Regions from separate parts of the Homo sapiens genome. Here all the other regions are linked to region 4. Evidence: fine-mapped expression QTL. A gene starts in region 4. Each other region holds a variant in brackets. All regions are shown on one strand. Distances are between the middles of the regions.

Region 1 (4,091 bases), 70 kb before region 4:
AGAATCGCTTGAACCCAGGAGGCAGAGGTTGCAATGAGCCAAGACCACACAACTGCACTCCAGCCTGGGTGAAAAAGCAAGACTCCACCTCAAAAAAAAAAACAACAACAACAACAACAACAACAAAAAACTGGACTCCCTACAGCCAGTGTAGTATGCACCACTCACTTGCCACACTGTATGCTGAGTGACCCTTCCACAGCTTAAATCTGCACATAACTTCAGCCTAGAACCATATAATGTCCCTTTATTTCTTCAGTACAATGATTAATACCATATTCTCTGTACCCTTCTTCCCTCTATGCTCATCATTCTAACAGCTCTTGCCAATACTCAAATCCAGGAGCAGCAAACTACTTCACATGTCACAAACTTTTCACAGGTTCACACCAGTGGATTCCCCAGTGAACCAGCTGTCTTAACTCAGGCTTCCATAACAAAATACCACAGACTGGGTGGCTTAAACACGAGGAATTTCTTTCTCACAGTTTGAGAGGCTGAGAAGTCCAAGATCAAACTGCCAGCGGATTCACCTCCTTGGTGAGGGCTCTCTCCCTGGCTTGCAGACTGCTACATTCTCCTTCTGTCCTCGCATGGTGGAGAGAAAGAGAGCACTTTCGTCTTTCTTCTGTTTCTTATAATGACACTGATCTCATCATGGAGATCCCATGGTCATGACCTCATCTAAACCTGATTACCTCCCAAAGGCCCTACCTCCAAAATACCTTCACATTGGGGGTTAAGGCTTCAATATATAATATGAAGGGAACACAAACATCCATTCCATTACACTAGCACCTGCATTTGCAATCCAGCCTCTGGGCCAGGCTTAGCAGTGTAGAGCCCAAGGCTTCAATTGACAGGATTTTTATGCTCTCATGCTCTGGCTCCTTGGCTCCAGAAGCTTCTAGAACCAGTAGGGTGATACATCCTTTAGCAACTATATTGTAAAACACATGGTGGGTAAAAGAGTGCCCTATTAAGTATTTTGGTTATGCCCCCATTAGTGTGCTTGGCTCAATATATTAATAGTAAGTAGTGGTTCGCATCCACCCTCAGTACCACCCTCTGCAGTCATCCTGTCAGTTTCCATTCCATTCTCCTATCCCTGGCTTGCTGGTTCAATACTCTTAAGTGATTTACTGCTGGTGCTCTTCTTTTTCCCTCAGAGATACCTTGTGATTTCTTTGATTCTCTCCATCTCTACAGGTTAATAAGTCTAATATTTAAAAACTCTGTAGAGGGATGTTGGGAAGCTGTGGGGAGAGCCCTTGGGCTTTTCGCCTGGGTAAAGTGCAGATTCCTGAGAATTCTGGGCCTTGGCTTCCAGCTGCACTAGTGCCGGCCACTCAGCTGTTCTCAGCAGCGTCACCTGGCGCAATGGTGCTGAAGCGCACTGCCGAGAGGCCAGAAGGCAAAGCGAGAGTCGGTGGCTATGGCCTGGAACCCATTTAGGCAAAACAGAGGGCGCGCGGGGACAAAGCAATAGAGAAGGGTGGGCAATACAGGATCTGTACACCATACATTAGCAATTGTATTTATTAAATTGTTGATTACCTAAGCCTCCGGAGAGTAGTTTGGACGCTTACCGGTTTTCTGAGGATTATTTGGGGAAGGGGTATGCATGCAAATGTGTGTACATAATTCGTGTGATTTCGGAATATTGACTCCATGAGTTCCAGATGCAGATTTGGAACGTTTTTAAAAAACATTTTGTTTTTGTTGTCTCGCAAATCAGCCAGATCTGCAACTGTATCAGAGTAAAGCGAAGCCAAGCTGGACCCTTAGGAAATGCGCTAACATGTCATCCACTTTCGGTGTCTGCCTGTGAAAATTCAGGCGATAAAGAGAATGAAGAGAACCTTAAGGAATTGCTGGAACCAAAGTTAATATTAAGCAGGCCTGCTGTGACGTCCTCTTCCTGGCAGACCAGTGGAAATTGTAGCCTGGTCGACAATCTGTATAGATTGATGAGGTCTAAAATGTAGTCACAGGTTCAACTACTTTTCTGTTTTCCAACCTCGAGTAAACTCACTAAATTTAAGGGCTAACAAAAACAAAAACAAAAAAAAAAAAAAACCTATGTTTCCGCCCGGTTTCGAACCGGGGACCTTTCGCGTGTGAGGCGAACGTGATAACCACTACACTACGGAAACCACAAGCAGTACCTGC[A/G]CGGCAAAATATAACCATGAAAATCTTAGATCGGCCGTTTCTATTATAGTTTCCAAATCCGAGATCGCACCACTGCACTCCAGCCTAGACGACAGAGCGAGAGTCTCAAAAAAAAGTTGGGAGAAGAAGGTGCCATTTTCCCTAGTTGCTTTTCTTACTGTGGTGGTGACCGCATTGCCTTCACACCTGAAGTCCAAGTGCTTCCACCCTGGGGAATATGCAGACAGCTGGGTCACTGGACGCCAGGCCGCAGAGCCGGCCTCGTTCTGCTTTTGGCTCTAAATGCAGTCGGGGGACGCGACTGGACCTCACCAGAGACTGGTGGGCTGTTACCCTTACCAGCGACTGGAGGGCCAAGCTCCCAAAGAGGCCTACTTCATGATCGCCTTAAATCAGGAAATTTCATGAAATCCCACCCCTCTACCGCCCCATTCCCATATTGTATCTCCTCCCCTGCCCACTCTGAGAGGATTCGCCCCCTTTCTGTCTCGTCTGGACCCTTTGGAGTCCCACATAGACAAGACAAAAGGGGCATTGCCTTTTCCTACAGGAGCGGGAAGAGCCGTCACAGCGGAGGAAACAGAGACTCACAGCGCGCATCCCCACATACTGCGCCCTGCCGAGTTCCAGCAAACCCAACAAAGCACTCTGAAGCTTCTCTGGAAAAGGAAGAAGTGTGAGGTTTCTGATACGGCAAGAGGAGCCAAAGAGAGGGGACCCAGGCCTTCCCCTAGCTCGAGAGAACAAACCCAGAAGAAGGGCAGATCCAAAGGAAAAGCGCAAAGGCGGCCCAACCCCACGACCTGAGCGAGCCAAGGGTCGCGGGTTAAATTGCGTTTATCAGAACAGTTGTTTGCTCACTGTCCCAAAGCCCTCCTAGGGACGAAGAAAACACTGGCATGGCACCAATCGCAGAAGGGGGCAGCATTGACACCCAGGAACAGGAGTGGAAAAGCAGGAAAAGCAGGGATCATCTCTCTCCTACCCCGTATATGGCTGCAGACATAGCAGTGGTTCTTTTCTCCAGGACCCAGTGAGTGTGCACCAGGAGAGAACATTATGCACGTTATTCATGGTGGCACCACCCAGGCTGAAAGTGAGCCTGTGCTGCTTGGGCTTTCAGGAAGGACGGGCCCAACTCTCCCTCCCTATACAGAGCTGCAGTGCCCTGGCAATGGAGGACAGACCATGGAGTTGCCTGCCCTGGACTCGGGGAAGAGGCTCTGCCCTAAACCCCATTTTAGTGGTAGCTGTCAGAGTGGCATATCCACAGACTTCAGCTGCACCACAGCCAGGAACCAAAGGACAAAGTCTTTATAAAATGAAGGTTGTGAGCTCTGTGACAGGGCATGATAGGGAAGCGGATCACATTCTTGCCTACTCAGGAGGAGGAGCTAGTGCACCTCTGCCCCTTCCCCTGAGACCTCAGCACACCCCGACATGATCTCTTTCCCACCATCCTGTCAGGGCAGGTTTTTCCACTGGACACCAGCCTACGTAACAGCCCTGACTCTTAAGCACCATCTACTGGACTGCATCCTAAACTGGACCACTGAATTCAAAAACCCTGCTACCAAAGGGCTTAGTGCTAGTCCATGAGATAAGTTTCCTGAGAATTCCGTACCCTCAGCCCCCAACAAGGGTTACTGTGTTAGCTTTTACTTCCAATACATCACCACAACAAGCAGCATCTGAGAAAGCTACTGCTCAGAAGCTATCCACAACCAAGAAACCCATACAAAGCTAGGGCTCCCTGAAAGCACCCAGAAATGAAGCCAAACAATCATACACAACATACACCACAGTCATACCATCAAGGGAAAAAAAGAATAAAAAAATTAAAAATCCTCATCCAAACAATACCAAATTCAAAACTAAGAAGCAACAGCTTCCTCGGATGAGAAAGAATCAGTGCAATA
Region 2 (4,091 bases), 25 kb before region 4:
CCAAGAGGCGGAAGTTGCAGTGAGTCAAGACCAAGCCACTGCTGCACTGCCCAGTCTCAAAAAATAAAAATTAAAAAAAAATCAGGCCAACACCTGTTGACACACATTGCTAGGAATCCCTTTGGGAAAGCAAATGGGCTCACGGAACACACGGAGGCCATGGTGGGTGACAATGTTAACTAATTCTGTTCATGGTGTCCAGGGTACAGGCCTGAGGGTCCACTCGCCACCTCTGCCCAAAGCCACGTCTCCACTGCTCCCCTCATCTCCGCACGGATTCCTCCCCACGTGCCTCCCCTTTTCTTGGACTGCCGACACCTGACACCACCAAGGTGACTGCTCCTCCCCACAGCTTCTCTCCTTCAGGGGACTTCACTTCTTGTTCCTCGCTCCATAGTGAGGCGTGACCCAGCGGTCAGCCCAAGGTCTAGCATGCGAATCAGGGACGTGATGGTTCTTTGGGATTCTAGGGATCTACCTGGAGAATAGATGAAAGTAACAAAAGTTTTACATACCAATATTCAAAACTGCATCAAACTACCAGAAACACTTGCCACTTTCAAAGATAGACTATGCTAAGTAGCTCCAGGTGTGTGCCACCATGCCTGGCAAATTTTTGTATTTTTAGTAGAGACTGGGTTTCACCATGTTGGCCAGGCTAGTCTCAAACTCCTGACCTCAGGTGATCCACCTGCCTTGACCTGCCAAAGTGCTGGGATTACAGGAATGGCTCTTGACTCTAACTGCAAGGTCCCTAGATCATTAGATCATTTCCTGAATATCTTATGCTTCAGGCATTGGCCATCACTTGGGTTACCATTGTCATAAATCAAAAGCCTCCACAACCAAGGCCCTTAAACATGGGATAGCCTGTGCAGGGCAGAAGTATAAAGAATATAGAGAAGTGAAGCACAAAACTTGTTGCATTGGCCAGGAATTAAACCAGGGTCTCCTATGCAGGCGGTGAGAATTCTACCACTGGACCACAAATCCGGCTCTTATGTGTGGTCCTGGAGAAACAATTGAAATACAATACTGAAAAAGACAGAAATTGTTCCAAAAGAAGCTTTTTGCAGTATTGACTAAAAGCTAACAGTAGACATCCAAAACCAAGGTTTTTACAGAATACTTTTACTAGACAAAACTATAAATATTAAAATAGCTTATTTGATCAAACTTTAATTCCGAAAAAGGCTCCTTCCAACTGCGTAACAGACTCCTATAGAAAAACATCAGAAATTCATCCAGGTTCCTTGTTTCTGATCCTAAATCTTCAATTTAGGACCTCAACCTCAAACTGTTGCTTTAGTGGCTCTGGGAAGGAAGCACTAACTGGCAGCATAGGTAAGTAAAGTTTTAATCTAGGGAAGAAATAAGAAGCAGAATCAGAATTAGAATTAGAAGAAAGAGGGAATATGCTATACCAGAATATCATAGGCAAAAAAAGAAGACAAAGAAAGAGGAAATGAAAGGACAGAAGGTAATGCTAATGGAGTTAGTTATTTGTGGCCGTTTTTTGTAAAAGAGTAATGATCAGTCTTGTAATCATTATAATACTATTATTTGCTTTCTAAAATGTCTAAAATATTTGAAGGAATTTATGATATAAAAAGATGAATAATGCTTGCAGTCAGTGTTTCATTGTTTGGGAGAACCCAGTTTCCTCAGTTAATACACTTTCGTGTAATAGCTGTTTAAGGAGTAACATGGTTTAAAGACATATTAATGGCTGAAATATTAACATATTGGTCTTTTGATGAAGTTCAAATAGAGAGATTTCTTTCCCCAATTTTCCCTGGAAAGATTAAACTGAAGAGAAAAATCTGGAAAGTTTGCCCCACATGTTGGGTCTGGGAGTCATTATGATTTTTTCAAAGACAGGAGTTGTGTATGACATGGAATCATGCTTCTTCTCTAGTTGAGAAGCCAAGCTAGGTCCAGGCTGAGTCATAAACTTGAACCCAACAAGGAAATCACCCTTCACACTG[G/A]CCTTGCAGAGCTTTGGCTCAATCTGTTCTCTGCCCAACACCCAAGACACATACTAGTTCTGGCCAACAAACCTTCACATATTGTCTGTGTCAACCAGAGCTACATTTATTCCGAAATCTCTTTCTAAAATACAAACCTGTACTTTCTACTCTCAACCCCAAAATTTACAAGAGGCCTCATATGCATCTCAGAGTCACAGATGCTAAAACTCAACACACCAGTGAGTTCCCTGTCAGCATCATATACTACCCTCTACCTCAATGATCAGCCCCAAGCCAGCATCTCCCAAAGAGTAGTGTGTTGCTGTGGGTGTTTCAACAGATCACTAAAACCTGCTTCTACCCCTGCCTAGACACTTATCCTCACTGCTATGCATCCTGCTCCTCAAATCAGATCTTGATATCTTCTTTAAACACTCCCAATCTCCCAACACGACAATTCATTTCCAAAGAATTATAGTATTTAAATTTATTGGACTCTATACAGACTCATTCCCACTTTGTTACTACGCTGGTCCATCCATCACCTCCATTAACATAAGTAGATCAAAAACTGGCCTCTCTACAGCCAGTCTTGTCTATTCCAACCCATTTGCCACACTGTATCCTGAGTGACCTTTCCACAGTGTAAATCTGGACATACCTGTAGCCTTAAATCATATCTACCAACATAGTAGCCAAGCAACAGCAATCTCTTTTCCTTTGGTCATTAGAGTCCTAGAGACCAAGAGGATGTTGGGAAAAGAATTACCATGGATCAGCTCTCAGAGGCAGTAGGTTCTGGACTCATGCTGGCTTTGATACGTGTGCATTGGAAAAGCTCAAGTACCTGGCAATACTTGGAGATTAGGAAGAAAGGATGAAAATAAACCACTGCACTAAATAACATGACAATAATCACTTATACAAAAATTTTAAAGATAAGGAATATTTAAAGATTTATTAGTTTATTATAGCTTTATAGTTGGAGAGTGAAGAAGAAAATACCAAAGCTTTTTGTCTTAACAAAATGGTGCAGACAGATTAACATATATTGTCACCTATGATAACCAGTCAGCATAAAAAGTATTTAGAAAGGAATGGTTATATTCTCTAAGAGATATATTCTGATGTCATGTTTTTTGCTTTAGAGTCTATTAATATAGCCACCTTTTTGTTAATGTTTTCAGTCAAGCTCCTTTTCTCGCCTTTCATTTCCAACCTTTCTCTCACTTTCTGGTTTAGATACAACTCCTAAATATATCATATAGTTAATTTAAAAATCCAGTGTAGCAGTATTTCGGGGGTTTGTTTTACTGGATAATTTGGTCCACTTACATTTAATGTAATTGTTGATATATATTAATTTTAAATCTACCATCTTTATTTTTTTCTGTTTGTTCTGCTTGTTCTGTTTCTATGTCTTTTCTTGTCTGTTTTGGATTGGTTATTTTTAACTATTATAACATTATATTTTTTTACTTTTTTATATGCTTTGCTTCACTTTCTTCCTTATTGTATTTCCTTTAATTGTATTTAAGTTGCTTCTATTCTTTTGTGGTTACTTTAAAAATTACAATCTTAATCCTTAATTTTTTTTTTTTTTTTTTTTTTTTGAGACAGAGTCTCACTCTGTCTCCAGGCTGGAGTACTGTGCCACGATCTTGGCTCACAGCAACCTCTGCCTCTCGGGTTCAAGTGATTCTCCTGCCTCAGCCTCCCGAGTAGCTGGGACTACAGGTGCAGCTAATTTTTGTATTTTTTTAGTAGAGACAGGGCTTCACTGTGTTGGCCAGGATGGTCTCCATCTCTTGACCTCATGATCCGCCCACCTTGGCCTCCCAAAGTATTGGGATTACAGGCGTGAGCCACCGTGCCCAGCTAATCCTTAATTTATTAAACATAGTAATAATTGATACCGTTATCCTCTTCCTGCACAATATATGGATGTTGGAATACTTTTATTCCATTTAGTCTCATTCTATATATATGCTGTTATCATTTATTAGGTCTAAGTATTAATAGTTTTAAACCCCAGAAGACTAGACATATATTTTATGTAGTTAATGTTAATTTAGATTTATCAACATATGTGCTGCTATCTTACTCTTTATTTCTGCTATG
Region 3 (4,091 bases), 160 kb before region 4:
TTACATTAAAAAATTAATGAGAGTATCTATTTGGTGAAATCATTTTCCTCCACGTGACCAAATGAGAAATTTAGTGAAAGATTTAAAATCATTTTTCAGACTTTTTCCACATTAGTCGGGAAGCAAACCCCTTTTTTAAGGCAATGTCAGTTATTAAGCTTTAGGGAACCACATGCCACTTTAGGGAACACATGATTGGAGAGATTGAAGAGTGAAGTTCCTGCTTTAAAGTGTACTCCTGTGGACACAGTAATACATATATTTAAAATGGTTCATGTTAAGAGTAGGTATATTTCTATCTAAATACTCTGTAGCTTTTGTGATTCAGGGAAACGAGTGGAGCCTCACAGGCACAAGAATCTAGTAAATTCTAGGTTTCTTGTGTGGAAATCAGTGGGCAAAATCTTAACTGAGTGAATTCTTGATTATTGGTATCACATTTGTTAGTCTGTATGTATCTGTGTCATCGATCTCCTTAAGAAGAGACTCGTAGATATTGACTGGGAGACCCAAGCTGAATGCTAAAATCTGCTCCATGGATATAAGCTGATGCAGTCATCATTTCACATTAAAATGTACCACAGCTATATATGCAGCAAAAAAAAAAAAAAAGTCCCTCCAGCTGAAAAGCAGTCATTACTTTATTATCACCACAGTATTTGAAATGATTTCTGTAGTTAACAGTCAGATTTTATTTTTAGTTAACTAAGACAAAGTGAATAATTCACTGTGAGCCAAATTCTTTCTTGATTCCTCTTTTTGGAGCAGTCCATCTTTATGGGAAAACCAGCCTAGAATGGTGATTTCAGTTTCAGGTGATTTCGATAGAATTGTATTTGGCTCAGAAATGATAAGACTGGGGCCAAGAAAAATTTTAAACTTTTTTTTTTGTAATCATATTACTAGTTTGATTTCATATGAACTTCCTTTGTTGACTTTCTTTGCCATTAATTTAAAAGTTCCAGTATCCTCAATATTTGATGTCTTATATGTACAGAATCCTTTCCAGCTGTAAGTCATCAGCAAGTAAAAAATTTAGTATGGCAATAGTTTTCATAAGAGGTTTTTTAAAACAGAAAAATGTTGACATTGCCAGCCTCTGGGTTGCATTTTGGGATATGCTACATTTCAAAGGTATCTTTTAAATCTGAAGGCAAAGACTTTTTCAACATCTGAATATTCTGATTTACAGAAATTAAAAAAAAAAAAACCCCGGAACATTACACGGGCATATAAATTTGAATCAGGAAAATATAAAATTAGCTGATTATTTTTATTCAGTAAAAGTGCCTTGGCACAGAACTAAAATTGATAACTTATGGTTTTAGCATGTAGATAAGTACATGAGAGTAAATCACATTTCTATATGAATAGAAATATCCACTTTATTCATGTATAGATTATAAAACTATACTAAACAAAAAGTAATCATTTACTATTACAAAAATTATTAAGAACCATTACAAAAATTCTCTGCCTACTAATTTTCAATCACCATAGAAATACAGTATTTAATAATGCTGCTGCTGTACTTACATAAAACATATTAAGAATAGATGTTATATTTCTGTGTTTGAATATTGAGCTTAAACATAAAACATATTTGAAATGTGTTTGTGTGTGTCTCTCACACACACACATAACATGTACATACCTGAAACTCATACTGCAATTGCAACACATCTTAAGTTTTTCCTTTTAAACATACCAAGATAACATTCTAAAATGAAGAATAATATCTATGTCTCTCTTCATACTACATACTATCTCTCTATGTATATACAATTGCTATAAACATATCTTTATATTTGATATATATAGGTACATATATATGGATAGATAAATATAGATATATGAGAGAGAAATGGAGATTAGAGATCTATGTTTGCCATAAATCATACTTGTTAACATAAACCATCTGATTAAACTGATATTTTGTGGCCCAAGACCTGAGACATGCAAAACTATTCTCAGCAGATAGAATTTTCTAAAAGCTGAGAGCTCATTCTCCAGGAGCTGGCCAAGGACCAGTACTAAAGGCAGACCTTTCTTGGAAATGTACACAGTCTGGGCAAACAAGACCTGCTGAGTTAACCCTTTCCTATACATATGCAGACGGTATTCAGCACAGGGCCTGACAGAAGGCAGTGTTTGTTATTATTATTCATAGCATTAGCCCATTTCTTGTTGTGAGCAACATGAACAAGGAGACTAAGGGGAGAAAAATGCCCTTTTTTAGGGTGACCACCCTAACTGATTTGAAAGTCTACAATTTTTTCAGTTTAAAATGGTATTTATTTGTAACATGTA[C/T]TATTATTGAATAACAATTTCTAATTAAAAAACTACGCTAGTTTTCTGCCTATGGAGAAGCCACCTTTTTATTCTTTTACTTTCTTAATAAGCTTGCTTTCACTTAAAAAAAAAATCTACCCTACATATACACAAAAGTTAAAAAGCAGCAATATTGTACATTGGTCAGTATAAATGCATGCAGTTTTCTTTTCTTCAGTGTACAAAGTCCAAGTCTAAACCTTTATAATTTTTAGAGTCTAGCGATTCTCCAGACTCCATACTTTTCATTGTTATCAGATGCCAGCGTTAATTGCTTTTCCTTTCTTCTGTTTTGGGTTCCTGATCTTCATCTGTGTCTTTAAAACAGATTATTTTCTTTAGATTTGAAAGGTTGGGTTTTTGTCTTCATTTCTTATTTGTTTAGCCTTGTATTTCCCTTTCTTTAATTGAATTGTGTTATTGAAAATTAAATAATTTCTCTGTGAAGTCAAAAATCCTGTTTCAGGGTGGGCTCTAGAGCCTTCCTCTTGGGCCATATCCTTAGAAAGCCTGTGTGTATTCTGATACATTTGGCAATTTCTACTGGCTTTTCTTGTATTGTCTGACCCCTTTTTATTTCAGCGGTGCATCCTGGTCTTACCCAACAGGCAAGTGGTGACTCCAGTGCAGGTGACGCAGAGGTAACACTAGAATGAAGTGAAATATTCTGTTGAGGGCTAAGTTCATGTTTTTGCTGACAGTGGTGGATAAATGTCATGGCTTCCCCCTGCATAGTGCTTAGGACATTTCTTTTGATATGTGTTTTAGAGAAAACATAAAACTTGTAATCAGGAAAATGCAATAACGGAAGAAATGCTTACTTGAGTAACTAATGTGAGTTAGGCAAAGAAGATACAAATACTTCCCATTTCCTACTTCTAAATTACAGTCAAATTGTCCTAAGCAAATCTCTCATTGTCTCCATGTAAAAGATATAGAGAAGCCGTTAGAAAAAGGTGGCTGGAACAACTTTATACATACAGCCTGAATGAACTGCCTCATCATTTATATGTTTGAGGAAAGTGTCTGTTTGATAATTTAAATTAAGTTTAAACTGTCATAAACGGAGAGCTGTACAGATTCTGTGGGAGAGGATACTGGGGTACCAGATACTCATTACTAGGCTCTCCACTCTGCCTTCTTCAATACTCTGGATCAGTGCCCTTTATTCATTTTTTTCACAACTTCCTCCCCTTTGCTCACATTCTTTACAAGCTTCCAGGATTTTTTTATTTTATTTTATTTCTTTCCACAATGACTCTCATGGCTGTTGCTATAGTTGCTATAAAAGGCAAGGTGGGGAACAGACAGGTGAATGAGCACAGAGGTCATTTGTAAACCGTTTGTGGTTAGTGCTCCTCTGTTTACTGTCTGTCTGTCTCTCTCAGTGTCTCTGGGTATGTGTCTGTTTACAACATAAAATATATGCACACAAATCTCCAATTTTTCTAGAGTAACTATTAACACAGTTAAAATCTGGAAGAACTCTATCTTTTAAAGGAAATACCAATTAGCAAATAAAACAGTTGATTCCCCCCAACTCTCATTCCCCAGAGCTTGCTTAAGTGTATGGTTTGCACACATTCCATAAATAAAAACATTGCTGGCTCATAACTATGCTTCACTTTCATAAGCCTTCCAAATGTTAGTAACTTAGCCTTCTCCTTTTGAAGGGTTAGTCTGTAAGTGATACTGGAAGCCATGTGGTAAGAAAGAGGACAGAAGTATAAAATCAGACTCAGAAAGTAAAATCTGGCATA
Region 4 (4,090 bases):
AATCGCAAGGCATGGGGTGGGCACTGTTATACTCCATCAGTGAGTACGTAAAGGAAATCAAACTGTCTGATTTTGAATCCTGCTTCTATTTTTTACAACCTTGGACAAATTACTGATTTCCTCTTTCACTAGGTTTATCATTTGTAAAATGGAGATACTAGTGTCTACTCATGGATTATTGTGAGGCTTAAATAAGAAAACATGTATCAAGCATATTTGTCTGGCATGTAATAAGCACTCTAAAATTTATGCAGTGATGAGGATAATGATCATAGACAATCTGATAGCATCTTATCCAAAGGAAAAAATGCGCATTTCCTTTGAGTAAGCACTACTGATTCTAGGAATGTGTCCTAAGGAAAAAATAAGTCAAATGTTTAAAGGTAGTCACAAGACTATTTTGGTAGTAAGCAGTCTTTTTTACTGGTCACACAGTAAAAAATTAGAAATAACCTACATGTTCATGAAGAGAAGTTGGTGAAATAAATTATGGTACATGCATACAGTAGAAAACTTTGGAGACAAAATAGTAAAATAGTTACAGATATAGGCTTTGAATATAAATTTTAACAAGCTGAGGCTTCTCTCGTCTCTTCAGAACACCCTGAGTTCTTCCCGGCCTTTCTTCCTTGCTTTTCATTTGTGTCAGTCAGCTCTTGCTCGTATAGCAATCCTCAAATCTCAGTAGCATATAAAGGTAAGCATTTAGTTCTCACTTACAAGTTTGCAGGGCAGGTGAGGCAGCTCTGCCTCAAGCCACAATGTCTAGGACAGCTCTGTTTCGCACTGTGGCTGACTAGCTAAAAAATGTTCTTGTCTCAGCAATCACAGGAGAACAAGAGGGTGAGAGATAATGTGTGAAGCTTCCTAAGTGCTAAGTTTGAAATTAGCACCATGTCATTTCCATTCACATTTCGCTGGCCAATGAAAGTCTCATGATGAGCCACAGTCAAGAGTCAGAGACATACCCTCATGAGGCTGTGGAGAGAGTGTAGATTCAGGGAGCGGTGAGAAACTGGGGCCAGTACACCAACTTACAGCATGATTTGTCATCATTTTTCATTCTCTGCTAGTAAGATTGCCAAAGTCTCTCTGCACTCATTGAATTCATTTAGCTCTCTTTAGCTCTCTTTTTTTAGCTCTCATTTAGTTTCCATTTAGCTCTCTTTCTCTCTTACCACAATACCTAAAAATCTTTTTATGGGGTTACAACTCTGTCTCAGGAGCCACCTCAGTTTGGTGGCACAGAGCTCCCCACTTGTACTCTGAAACTCTTTTCTTGAAGATATTGCTATCCATGTGCATGAGTTATTTTTCTTCTCCATAGCATCCACATTAAACAATTAATTACCTTGGATTTAGCCAAAATAAACACTCCAAATTCATGATGTCTTTCAGGAAGAGAGTTTGTTTTCTTTTTTAACCAAAATGGGAGATTGATCCTGTCTGTGTCCCCTAGAGGAGCAGAGGCTGGTTTGTATTAGGGCAGCTCTTGTAGATGAGTAACTTTTCCCATGGCCTCATAGAGGCTGATATAGAAACTTCTGGATTCAAATGATTGTTTGGAGGCATTAGCCAGGCATTGAACCAATTATAAAGAGTGAGGTTTTGCCATATTCTAACCGTAAGAAACAGAAACGGTAGAGGGTAAAAATAGAATAGAATGTCAATACAACTTTAGCCTTTTCCCTGGATTCTGAGAGTTCATAACCTGAAAATCAGAGATTCAAACTGGGAGAGATGGGCTAACAGGTATGAGCATGGGAAAAGCATGTTTCAAGAATTTGAGATGTATTTCCCAGAAAAGCAACATGATGAAAATGGTCAGAAAAGGCAATTTCCTTCCTCTTTTCTAATTTGGCTCTGGAGCCACCAGCAGAACCTCTTCAATATCTTGCATGTTACAGATTTCACTGCTCCCACCAGCTTGGAGACAACATGTGGTTCTTGACAACTCTGCTCCTTTGGGGTAAGTTGGACTCAGAGGGGACAGTTAGAAGGGTACAGGCTGTGGCTGTTGTGAGTCAAGAGTTTTGTCTTCCTGTGGTAACTCTGGGTAGAACTCATGAGTATGAAGCAACTTGTATCTGTGCTTCCATGGTTTATTAGAGCTTATTTTATGAAAAGGATGGGAAGGGCAACCCTGAGGTAGCATTAAGCCTGGACGCACCGCAGTGAAGTTTCCTTGATAACCACCTGTAGCTTGTTCAGTTCTGTTAGTACTGGATTTTGAGAAAGAGAAATAGAAACTCAAGAGATCTGAGTTGATCCCTCAGAGTCTACATTAATTCTGTCTCCCCAATTCTCTCTTCCTCATTATTTTCCTTGGACCAACTGATATCTTTATTCTCTGATCTCTTGCAGTTCCAGTTGATGGGCAAGTGGGTGAGTGATCTCTAACTCAGCTTCTCCTTCTATGCCACTTTCCTACTTCCAAAGGATGGGTCCTATTAACCTGCAGAAGAGCATATAGGGAAAGCAGAGAAAGAAGAAAGATTTATAAATTATGTAAAATCTCCCATATTCAGAGCATGATTTTCATAAAAACTATGATTTGTAAGCTTTCTTTCTAAAGTTTTCTGAATGAGCTCTTTCCTCTGAGCGAAATGCCTGAATGTATATATAACAGCAGGAAAGGGCCAGAATTGCACAAACACTAAAGTAGTCTGCTGACACTGAAGTAGTCTGCTGGGTTTCCCAACATCCCCTAAACCAGTCCCCTTTACAAGAAAGCAGAGTGGGTTTTTTCTCCTCAGAAAGAGCCAGGCAAATACTGAAGGCTTCAAAGAGAGGAGTTTGAACCTCCGTTTCCAATGTACAAGCTGCTGAAGCCCTGCAATGTACTCTCAGAGACAGTATAGCTCAGAGGATAAGGAAAACAGCTCCGCTTGGCTTGCCCAAGTCTAAAACCCTGCTTCATTGCTCCCAACAGAAAAACCTACATCAGTAATTTAATCCTCAGGAGCCCCAGATTCCCAACACCCAGATGAGGATTTAATAACAATGAACAGAGGTCTCTGCAGCAGGAGGACACTCTTAAAGGCTGGCTTTTGTAGGTTTCCACTTGCCTATTTTTCAAATAAATCTAAATATGTATTTTTCCCTTGTGCTATCCACAAAAGCCTCACCAGTTGCTCAGAGCCCTCCCCTTTACTCCACTTGATCTTTTTCTTTTTCTTCTTGTAATCTCCAAGTAGACACCACAAAGGCAGTGATCACTTTGCAGCCTCCATGGGTCAGCGTGTTCCAAGAGGAAACCGTAACCTTGCACTGTGAGGTGCTCCATCTGCCTGGGAGCAGCTCTACACAGTGGTTTCTCAATGGCACAGCCACTCAGACCTCGACCCCCAGCTACAGAATCACCTCTGCCAGTGTCAATGACAGTGGTGAATACAGGTGCCAGAGAGGTCTCTCAGGGCGAAGTGACCCCATACAGCTGGAAATCCACAGAGGTAATTATGACTTGGACCAGGAGGGCCGGAAACCACAAGGTCTTCCTCTGCGTTCTCTCCTTTCTGGATGCCAGATGTGTGTGTGTCGATTTATCTGGGTGCAGGTCTCAGCACTATGTACCTACCAGGTGAAACTAAATCAGTATACTCAAAACATCACAGCAGGGTCCTTAAACTGTGTACCAACAGTACCTCAGCTAGGCCAGCTCTAAGTAGGATGTCTAGAGTAAGACTTAGGCCCTAAGATTGTATCATTATTCCAAATGTATGCCTGTACATAGTAAATAATAATAATTCAAACAAATGAGCAATAATGAACAATGAAATATCTTCCTCCCACCCAAAACCTAGATCTGCAGTCACCTTCCACAGAAACAAAACTGCTAATATATATATACATATTATGCATATATATGTATATATTAGCATTATTATATATAAACTATATATATATATATATATACACACATATATATAGTTTTAAAGCTGTGGGTGGTAGAACACTTTCTAAGTATTGTCCTATATCTTACTTTTATCACTTAAAATACCTTAAAGTTCTGTTTATATTAATAGAAATCCACTTTAAAATGTCTGCTGCACAGCTGTACCAGAATTAATTTAACCATTCTGCCTATTAG
Region 5 (4,091 bases), 100 kb before region 4:
TGATAATTTTATATGTTAGTTTATCAAACATCAATCTTGTTTAACTTTATATTTTGTTACCTATACTTTGGGGGATCAAGGGAAGAGATGGAACTCTTCCTCTGAAAATGCTTCTTGGTACTTAAAGTAGTAAAACTATAAAACAGTAAACATCCAGTATTGGGAGATGATATGATAGGGCATTATGAATTCCTATGGGTATCTAAATTATGTATGTCAGTTGGACATTGTAGAAGGTATGTAAATCATCATGGTTATGTATAACTTAACCTTGATTTATAAGGTCTTAATTCAGATTATGACTATTCGTTGACATCTCATGAGAAGCTTTAGAAAACTTTCTATTTTTAAACACCATTTATATGTGGACTTCTGTTGTCACTGACTTTGGGCTTTATATTTTCACAGAGTCTTTATGGAAAAAGTAGAATTTATTTTCCACTCTTGTAGCTATAGCTGCTGCACATTTTCACCCTGATTTATTTTTTTGTTTCTTACCTTTGATGTTTTCAAACCAAGGATTGTGATTTTAGGTTAGAATTACATATTAGAAGCATTAAGACTATGTCTTTGGATCAGAATGCTTTAGTGATTAACCTACTTTGAAGACATACTCTTAAGCAATCTGGATCTTAAATTTATGTGAATACATTTTTAGAAAATGATAAAGAAAAATGGAATTACTTCAAAGTGTTTCTTGAGTCATTGATTCTTTTAGCATCTCAAATGTTAATTAGAATAATTGGAATCACTTTTTAGACTTTTCAAGTTACCTTTCTTGGGAAGTTTGTGTAGTGTTAACAGTTTAGTTTAGCTCCTCTTATAGGGCAATGGTTTGCTAGTTTAAAACTGTAACCAAATGAACTGGTCAGACAACTCATATCTAAAACACTTAAAATGTTAGAACGTTTGGGAATGTTATAACCTAAGCGTTTTTGCTGATAACTTTTTGTTATTTATAGACATTTGTGTATTTAACATACTTACTTCTGGAAATATATGCCTTTCCTAAAACTTAACCACACATCCACTACCATGGCCTATGTATAGAATTGAATATTTTGGACCATGTTATCTGTGGCACAGTCAGTGCTGTGTTTGAGGTAAATGCAGTAACGGTTAGTTTTCTACTTTGCCTTATAAAAGGTAGAAACCATGTGTATGTTATGTTTGTCTATAAAAGAAAAATACTAATATTAAATTATTTCTTATGACTGTGAGTCACTCACTTATTTTTCCAATAATTGATATTGTACATTCTTAGTGCCATTAGGTATGTATGTATGTAACTTTTACAGTTTTTCAGCTGAAAGTTGTATTTTTTTTTAATCAGGGCTCTTTAATCTCATTTTAATTTCCTTTGTTTGAATGAACTGTAGTTATTTTCTGTATTCCTATATTAACCATCTAAACCAACTGTAATGACACGTACACTAATAAAGAATTGAACATTTGTATTTGTTGGCAGTGAGCCCAGTTGTTGGTGAATTTAAAGCTTAAAATATGGGAGTGATTTGCTGCTATATTTCTTTTGAGAGATAAAGGAGGAAGAAATGGAACCTAATGGTAATCATGAATTTTAGGGAAAGTACTGAAAAACCATGGGGTCCCCTCTGGTTTCTTGTGTTGAATGAGGCAAGAGTAATCATCTGATTCTGAGCTGAAGACCTCTCATACTCTCAAGGAGGGAGAGTGCATTTTTAGAGCTTTTAGCAAAAATGTGAAAAGTTCATGTTTGCACGTTGCTTTGTGAATTTGGCTTCCTTTTACTTATACATTAACTCATGTAATGTCTTAAATCTTACAAGTATTGATCCATTTCAACAAAAAGGTAAATTTAAAATGCAGACTTTGTTACTTGCCAAAGAAGATTCATGAAAAATTTATATCCAATTATTTTCCAAATAGTTAATTTAATTTGGCTTTTTACCACATTCCTTCCTTTCTTTCCCGACTTCTTTAATGTAATTTAAATCCTGGA[A/G]AACATTCTTTAGAAACCAAGAGGAAAAGAAGAACACATACCAAAAAAGACATATAACTTAAAATGGTACATTTCACATCTAAAATGGGTTTGAAGAAACGCAACTTTATATCATTAAAAAATAAGATCATCTGATTTCCTTTATTTCTTTTTTAAATTATGTAATCAGATGATTTTATATTTTTTGGGGGGGGCGGAATATTGGTTTCTTTTACTTGATGTTTTCAGTTTTCTCTGGCATTCAAGTTTCTTTTTTGTGTTCAGTGTTTCAAATACAATTTGTATTTAAGGATTTTAAAATACCAAACTGTAAATGAGTACAGTGGATCTTTTTCTGTTAGGATGTTAATATTATACAATGAAATCTATAAAGTGTTGTCAATTTGATCATTGACACATATGACATGTTTACAATTAAACTGTGGTGTTGATCAAGTTAAAAAAAAGGCGGAGGCCTTCCATAAGTCATTTCAAATGGACTAAGCTTTAAAGTTCTCTTTGGAGCCATCCTCATATGCAAAAGGGCTATGAGTAGGAGGAAAACTCAGGCCTCTGAGGTCTCCTGAAAGAGTTTTGCTAATGTCACAACTGGCTTTCTATGTTATCTGAAGATTGAGATCTCCATGAAGAGTGAAGATAGGTAATGCTTAAGGCTGAGGCATTACCTCACTGGGTCACCTTAGCTGGGAAGGGAGGTCAGTTATCCCCTTGCAAACATTTTGGTAATCCAAATCTTGGGATGATTTCTTTAAGTAAGAATTTAGACACTTCCAATACTTTTCTTGTCCTTGTGGGGAAAGCTTCTATCCACCTGGTGAAAGTGTTTATAAATACTAGCAAATATTGTAGTCCCCTGTAAGGTGGCATCTGGGTTAAATCTGTCTGCCAGTCTTCACTATGGTATGTTCCGTGGTGTTGTACAAGTTTAAGCAGGGAGTGGGGTATGGGGTGGCTTCCTGATTGGTAAATCTTTTTATAGATTAGAACAGTCCCTTCCCCAAGAATATTTAGGAAACTAATTTGAATGGAAAATCCTGTCCCAAATGTGAGGAATCATGAAAATGTTAAATTATTTCCCATTTGTCAGCCTCAGGAATAGAGTTTGTTCTTTTCTAGCAAGCGTCTAGAGGGGTCTTACTGGAAGCCTTTTACTCAGTCCCTTTAATTTCCTTGGGTGTATAGTACGGTTCCACTGACATGGATGACCTGGTAGTAGCGCAGCAGCCTGAAATACCAGGGTTTCCTTAGCTGTGGCCTTAGCTGCTCTTTCCAAAAGGGAATTTCCTCTAATAAGAACAGTGTCTCCCTTCTGGTGTCCCCTGCAGTGAATACTTGTTATTTCTTTGGGAATTGGATGGCATCTAAAAGTTCCAAGATCTGAGTAAAGTTGTATGGGGGATCCCTTGGCTCTTGATAGTCCCCTTTCCTTCCCTATGGTTGCATGAGCCTGAAGCACCCGGAAACCATACTTAGAGTCAGTAAACACATTGACTCTTGAGGGTTTTTTTTTTCTTTTTTGAAACAGAGTCTTGCTCTGTCGCCCAGGCTGGAGTGCAGTGGCATGATCTTGGCTCACTGCAAACTCTGCCTCTCAGTTTCAAGTGATTCTTGTGCCCCACCCTCCCGTGTAGCTGGGATTACAGGTGCCCACCACCATACCCGGATAATTTTTGTATTTTTAGTAGAGACAGGGTTTCGCCATGTTGGCCAGGCTGGTCTCGAACTCCCAACATCAGATGATCCACCCACCTCGGCCTGCCAAAGTGCTGGGATTACAGGCGTGAGCCATCCAACCCAGGCTTAAGTCTTTTCACAGTTGGAAGGTCCTGATTAGAGCAGCTAATTCTGCTTTTTGAGCAGAATTCTGAGAAGGTAAACCCTTGGCCTCAATGACTTCTTGTTAGCTAACCTTCCTTTCTTACTCCCTCATGAATAAAGCTATTTCCATCTCTAAACCACTCAACACTGGGGTTAGACAAGGGCTTGTCTTCAAGGTTGGACCTTCTAGAGTAGATCTCTTCCATGGTTTCCACCCAGGAGTCAATGAGTTGGGGATCTGTTTCTTGGGATGTGAGGTCCAGCAACAGAGTAGCAGGGTTTAAAAATCAGC
Region 6 (4,091 bases), 110 kb before region 4:
GGGGTGCGTTTGTGGTGAATTAGCTTTGGGAAAAGGGAATCCAGAGGCCAACTTTGTAAAAATCCAGATAGGTAAATGGAGAGAAATCTTTGCCTTGGAAGTCCAATTGAGAAAGATAGTGATTTACTTCGGACTGTGAAAAGAGAGACTAAAATCTTTACTTTCTCATGGGAAAGAAGCCTATGGTGAAAGAGAAACAAAGAAAATGGTGGGAAATAGGATAGGTCTACTCAGTAGCTTTAAACCATTCTGTCATATTATAAAGCCTGGTAAGGTTTTAACTAACACAAGTGCCTGGACTCTACACATAGAGATTCTGATTTAAATGCTTCCAGGTGGGTGGAAGACACTAGTAGTCTTAAAAAGCTCCCAAGTAATTTTAACATGTAGCTAAAGATGAAAAGGACAATCTATCTACTAGAATGTCAAGTCGCCAGCATAGGAGTGTCCCAAATGTGCAGCTACCTCATAGAAAAGGCTTAACCCCATCCATTGATGGAATTTGCCTTCCTCTCTCCATGGTCTTGTTTGCATAGCATGGAAAAAAAGAGAAGAGAAAAAGAGGTAGATGGATAGATTGAACCTATAATTTGCCTATGTGGAGCAGTTTCTCAAACTTTTCTGACCACAAGATACAGTGAGAAATACACAATTCTTTGTGATCAGTTTTTAAAAAATCTTTTATTATGTGTAATCCACCCTTCCTGGTATTTAAATAAAGCCTGTAGTAGTAAGCAGTCCACTATATTGATTTCACAACCCATAAGTTGTTCAGAATTGCAATTAGAAAATTTTTAATTTTGGCCAGGCGTGGTGGCTCGCACCTGTAATCCCAGCACCTTGGGAGGATCACCTGAGGTCGGGAGTTTGAGACCAGCCTGACCAACATGGAGGAACCCTGTCTCTACTAAAAATTAAAAAAAAAATTTTTTTTTAATTAGCTGGGTGTGGTGGTACCTGCCTGTAATCACAGCTACTTGGGAGGCTGAGGCAGGAGAATTGCTTGAACCCTGGGGGTGGAGGTTGTGGTGAGCCAAGATTGTACCATTGCACTCCAGCCTGGGCAACAAGAGCAAAACTGTCTCAAAAAAAAAAAAAAGAAAGAAAGAAAGAAAAAAAAAGACAAAGAAAGAAAGAAAAAGACAAAGAAAGAAAGTAAGAAAGAAAGAAAATTTTTTTTCACTTTTGCTCAGCCTTTTTATCAAGGAAAATCCCAAAAGAACATTTACTGTAAAAGAACATTGACTATAAACATCTTTCTGTGAATCCTTATTTCTGTCCCAGCCACCATGACCCAATAATCTCTAAAACCTGTTAGTGTTCTCCAGATTGAAGCCTTCCGTCTAACTGCTCCTAAATCTGTGATGTAGTGGAAAAGGTTTGAGGCCTTGATTCTCATCCCAGGTTTTTCACCTACAGATCATATGGCCTTAGCCTCTTGACACCATTGTCTCCTTATGGCCAAAGATGGAACTGTACTTGGGTGGTATCTGAGCACCCTGTTGGCTTTGACATTCTAGGGCTCTTCCCTTGGCACCACTCTCTTATTTAAAAGGAATAGGATGTGGACTTACAAGGGTTATTTCTCTGCAAACTATCCTCTCTTTCTTATGACAAGCTATTTCTGAATGTGCACATTTGAGGCTAAGCAAATCCCTTCCTGGGAGGTGTGAAAGACCTTTATTTCTCTCCAGAGGAGTATTATGGAGGTGGTAGAGACCTAGCTAACTCATCTGCAGTGGCTTTGAGCAAGGCTTTTAGAGCCATAAGGTGGCTGGGGTCCTGTGTCCTACACCACAGGCCAGCTAGTTCATTTCAGGAGACTTTCTTTTCAATCTATTATTACTATCTTCTTCTAGACTGTAGTTCACTACCAGAGATTATCCACTTAGCTGCACTCAGTTTGCACCTGGCCTGTATCACCACTTAGCTCTCACTCTAGCCTCAGTTAGGTATCAGCAAGACCTCACCAAAGATTATTGTTTCGTTGTATGTGTGTGTGTGTTTTTGTTTGTTTCAAGTAGCAACTAATGTTGGAACTATG[G/A]AAAGTTCTTCTCTACTTTTAACAAAGCTTAGTCACAAACAGTTCCCCAGTTGATGAGAAAAACTAAAACAACAGAACAATTGAAAGTCCAAATCTGAAAGCTCCATCTCTGAGAAGCAAATTTTATAGCCACTCCAGATTTGTATTCCAAATGGATAGTTTGATTGTAGAAATCACATCCCTTCAGTCTGCAAATGTGATAACTGCCCAAGAGACAGTGATGCCTAGATCCATAAATAATCCCCTTTCCCCCAACCTATATATAACTGGAGTCAACAGCAGCTAGAGGAAAATGGCAAGGACTTGGAATCAAGATTAAGTTAGAATAACACTGCTGTAGACTGTTTATCAGCTCTTCAGCATATGTCCATTTTCCTTGAAGGATAAGCCTTTAGAAACCTCTGACAATAAAGTTTATTTTACACACATTCTCTTGCCTATGATTTTTTTGTACAAAGCACAATTACAAAACTTTCTTGCTCCAGCTAAAAGCAGGAAACTCAGTCACAAATGTGTTCACTACATGTATACCACAGAATGATAGCAGCCAGTCTGAATGCATCACTTGATTCCAAAATTAAATGTTAGCACTCAGTAGTGAAACTACATGTATCTCCAACTCTGGAAGCCCCAGGCAAGATACTCCTGTTTCCTGCAGGGAAACAGATCTATAAGCAGGGCAGCAGTCTCACACATGTACATTCCTGGGAAACCCAAGGAAACAATGGTAGTGACGCAGGGCAGGCGAACCTCAAAACTGGTTTGTAGCCTGAGAAATTTCTCCCAGACTGTAGTTTCCTTGGCTTTGCCAAGGAAAGAATTCAAGGTCAAGCCGCTGGTGAAAGAAAGCAACTTTTATTGAACTGGTGCTGCTACTTGCAGAGCAGGGCTAACCCATAGGCAGTGTGCCCAGAGTTGGTGCCTGTGGGCTGCTAGCTAGTTGTATTTAGACCCACTTTTAATTACATGCCAATTAAGAGGTAGGTTATTCAGAACTTTCTGGAAAAGGGGCAGGGAGTTTCTAGAACCGTATAAAGTAACTTCCAGGCCATTGCCAAGGTGTGTTGCCATGACATTTGTAAACTGGCCATGGTCCCAGTGGTAGTGTCTTTATGCTCATAAGTAGTGAGAGCAACTAGAGGTCACTTTCATCATCATCTGCTGGTTTCAGCAGGCTTCTCCACTGCACCCTGTTTTGACCAGATCCTGCTCTGTTCAATGGGGTTGTGACTGGAAAATAAGTCTTTCTGGTCTCCTACCTCATTTCCCCATCAGAGATTATATACTCCTCCTTAATCTTAAGGGGCTTGCAGAAGGGTGCAGGTTCATCTTCTGTAACTGCTTCCTGCTGATGTTATGGGCATAGACTCTGCCTAGCACTGGAGAAGTAAAATCTCTGGATACCTGTTCTAAAAGACCCAAAGGCAGGATGTCTTTATTTTCTGGGTCAGAAGAGGGGATGGGTTGAAAGCCTTGTGCCAGCATCATCTTTACATGGAATTATTGTAATCTAGAAGACACAAACTTTACAAGGAGGTTAAACAAGCAAGGACCAAAGATTAGTAATAACAAGATATCTGTTAAAGGTCCTAGGAAGGGTAAAAATCAAGTGTCTGCTGGTAGAGATTCCTTTATTGAATTCCATCAGCAGGGCAAAGCGGTAAGAGAGAAAATATTATAATTAGGAGTAAGAGAAAAACTTTCATGCTCATCCACAGCATCATGTTATTAATATTTATCTGTGCATTTGCAAAACAATAGCTTTAAGTCTTCTGGGAGTTTGCAAGTATAGGTCATGGTATCTTCCTCTGACATCTGTGAGGACTCATAAGAATCTTTGAGGCTGGGCACAGTGGCTCATGCCTGTAATCGCAGCACTTTGGGAGGCTGAGGCAGGCATTTCACAAGGTCAGGAGTTCAAGACCAGCTTGGCCAACATGGTGAAACCTCATCTTTACTAAAAATACACACACACAAAAAAAAAAATTAGCCAAGCCTGGTGGCACGTGCCTGTAATCCCAGCTACTCAGGAGGCTGAGACAGGAGG

Alleles and levels. Alleles are on the strand shown, and positions count from the first base shown. SD is a standard deviation of normalised expression in the study named. Not every link is listed here.
With allele G in place of A in region 5, the expression in subcutaneous fat of the gene that starts at base 1,889 in region 4 is lower (moderate effect, 0.42 SD a copy in GTEx).

The links. PIP is the estimated chance that this variant, and not a neighbour inherited with it, causes the effect.
Region 1: its variant is fine-mapped to the expression of FCGR1A in whole blood (INTERVAL, PIP above 0.99).
Region 2: its variant is fine-mapped to the expression of FCGR1A in whole blood (TOPMed, PIP above 0.99).
Region 3: its variant is fine-mapped to the expression of FCGR1A in whole blood (TOPMed, PIP above 0.99).
Region 5: its variant is fine-mapped to the expression of FCGR1A in subcutaneous fat (GTEx, PIP 0.95).
Region 6: its variant is fine-mapped to the expression of FCGR1A in whole blood (TOPMed, PIP above 0.99).

The regions. Positions count from the first base shown.
Region 1 is chr1:149,710,469-149,714,559 of GRCh38, forward strand. TRV-CAC1-7 (tRNA-Val (anticodon CAC) 1-7) reads right to left here and starts at 2,156; the gene lies at 2,084-2,156. The variant A/G (reference allele first, on the strand shown) is at 2,173.
Region 2 is chr1:149,755,799-149,759,889 of GRCh38, forward strand. All of the region lies in intron 2 of LOC105371406 (a long non-coding RNA gene), which reads left to right. It also overlaps the pseudogene TRR-CCT8-1. Among named protein-coding and RNA genes, the nearest start is that of TRN-GTT8-1, 18 kb to the left of the region's middle. The variant G/A (reference allele first, on the strand shown) is at 1,989.
Region 3 is chr1:149,617,077-149,621,167 of GRCh38, forward strand. All of the region lies in intron 1 of LINC00869 (long intergenic non-protein coding RNA 869), which reads left to right. Among named protein-coding and RNA genes, the nearest start is that of LINC00869, 12 kb to the left of the region's middle. The variant C/T (reference allele first, on the strand shown) is at 2,311.
Region 4 is chr1:149,780,806-149,784,895 of GRCh38, forward strand. FCGR1A (Fc gamma receptor Ia) reads left to right here and starts at 1,889. Exons shown (of 6, transcript NM_000566.4): 1 at 1,889-1,969; 2 at 2,365-2,385; 3 at 3,198-3,452. The coding sequence starts at 1,939. LOC124904411 reads right to left here. Exons shown (of 2, transcript XM_047438183.1): 2 at 2,085-2,455. It also overlaps a transcript of H2BC18 not described here.
Region 5 is chr1:149,678,062-149,682,152 of GRCh38, forward strand. It overlaps LINC00869 (long intergenic non-protein coding RNA 869), which reads left to right. Exons shown (of 9, transcript NR_111950.1): 9 at 1-1,462. It also overlaps the pseudogene FAM91A2P. Among named protein-coding and RNA genes, the nearest start is that of TRV-CAC1-7, 33 kb to the right of the region's middle. The variant A/G (reference allele first, on the strand shown) is at 1,982.
Region 6 is chr1:149,670,555-149,674,645 of GRCh38, forward strand. The region is part of intron 8 of LINC00869 (long intergenic non-protein coding RNA 869); the gene reads left to right. Among named protein-coding and RNA genes, the nearest start is that of RNVU1-30, 36 kb to the left of the region's middle. The variant G/A (reference allele first, on the strand shown) is at 2,045.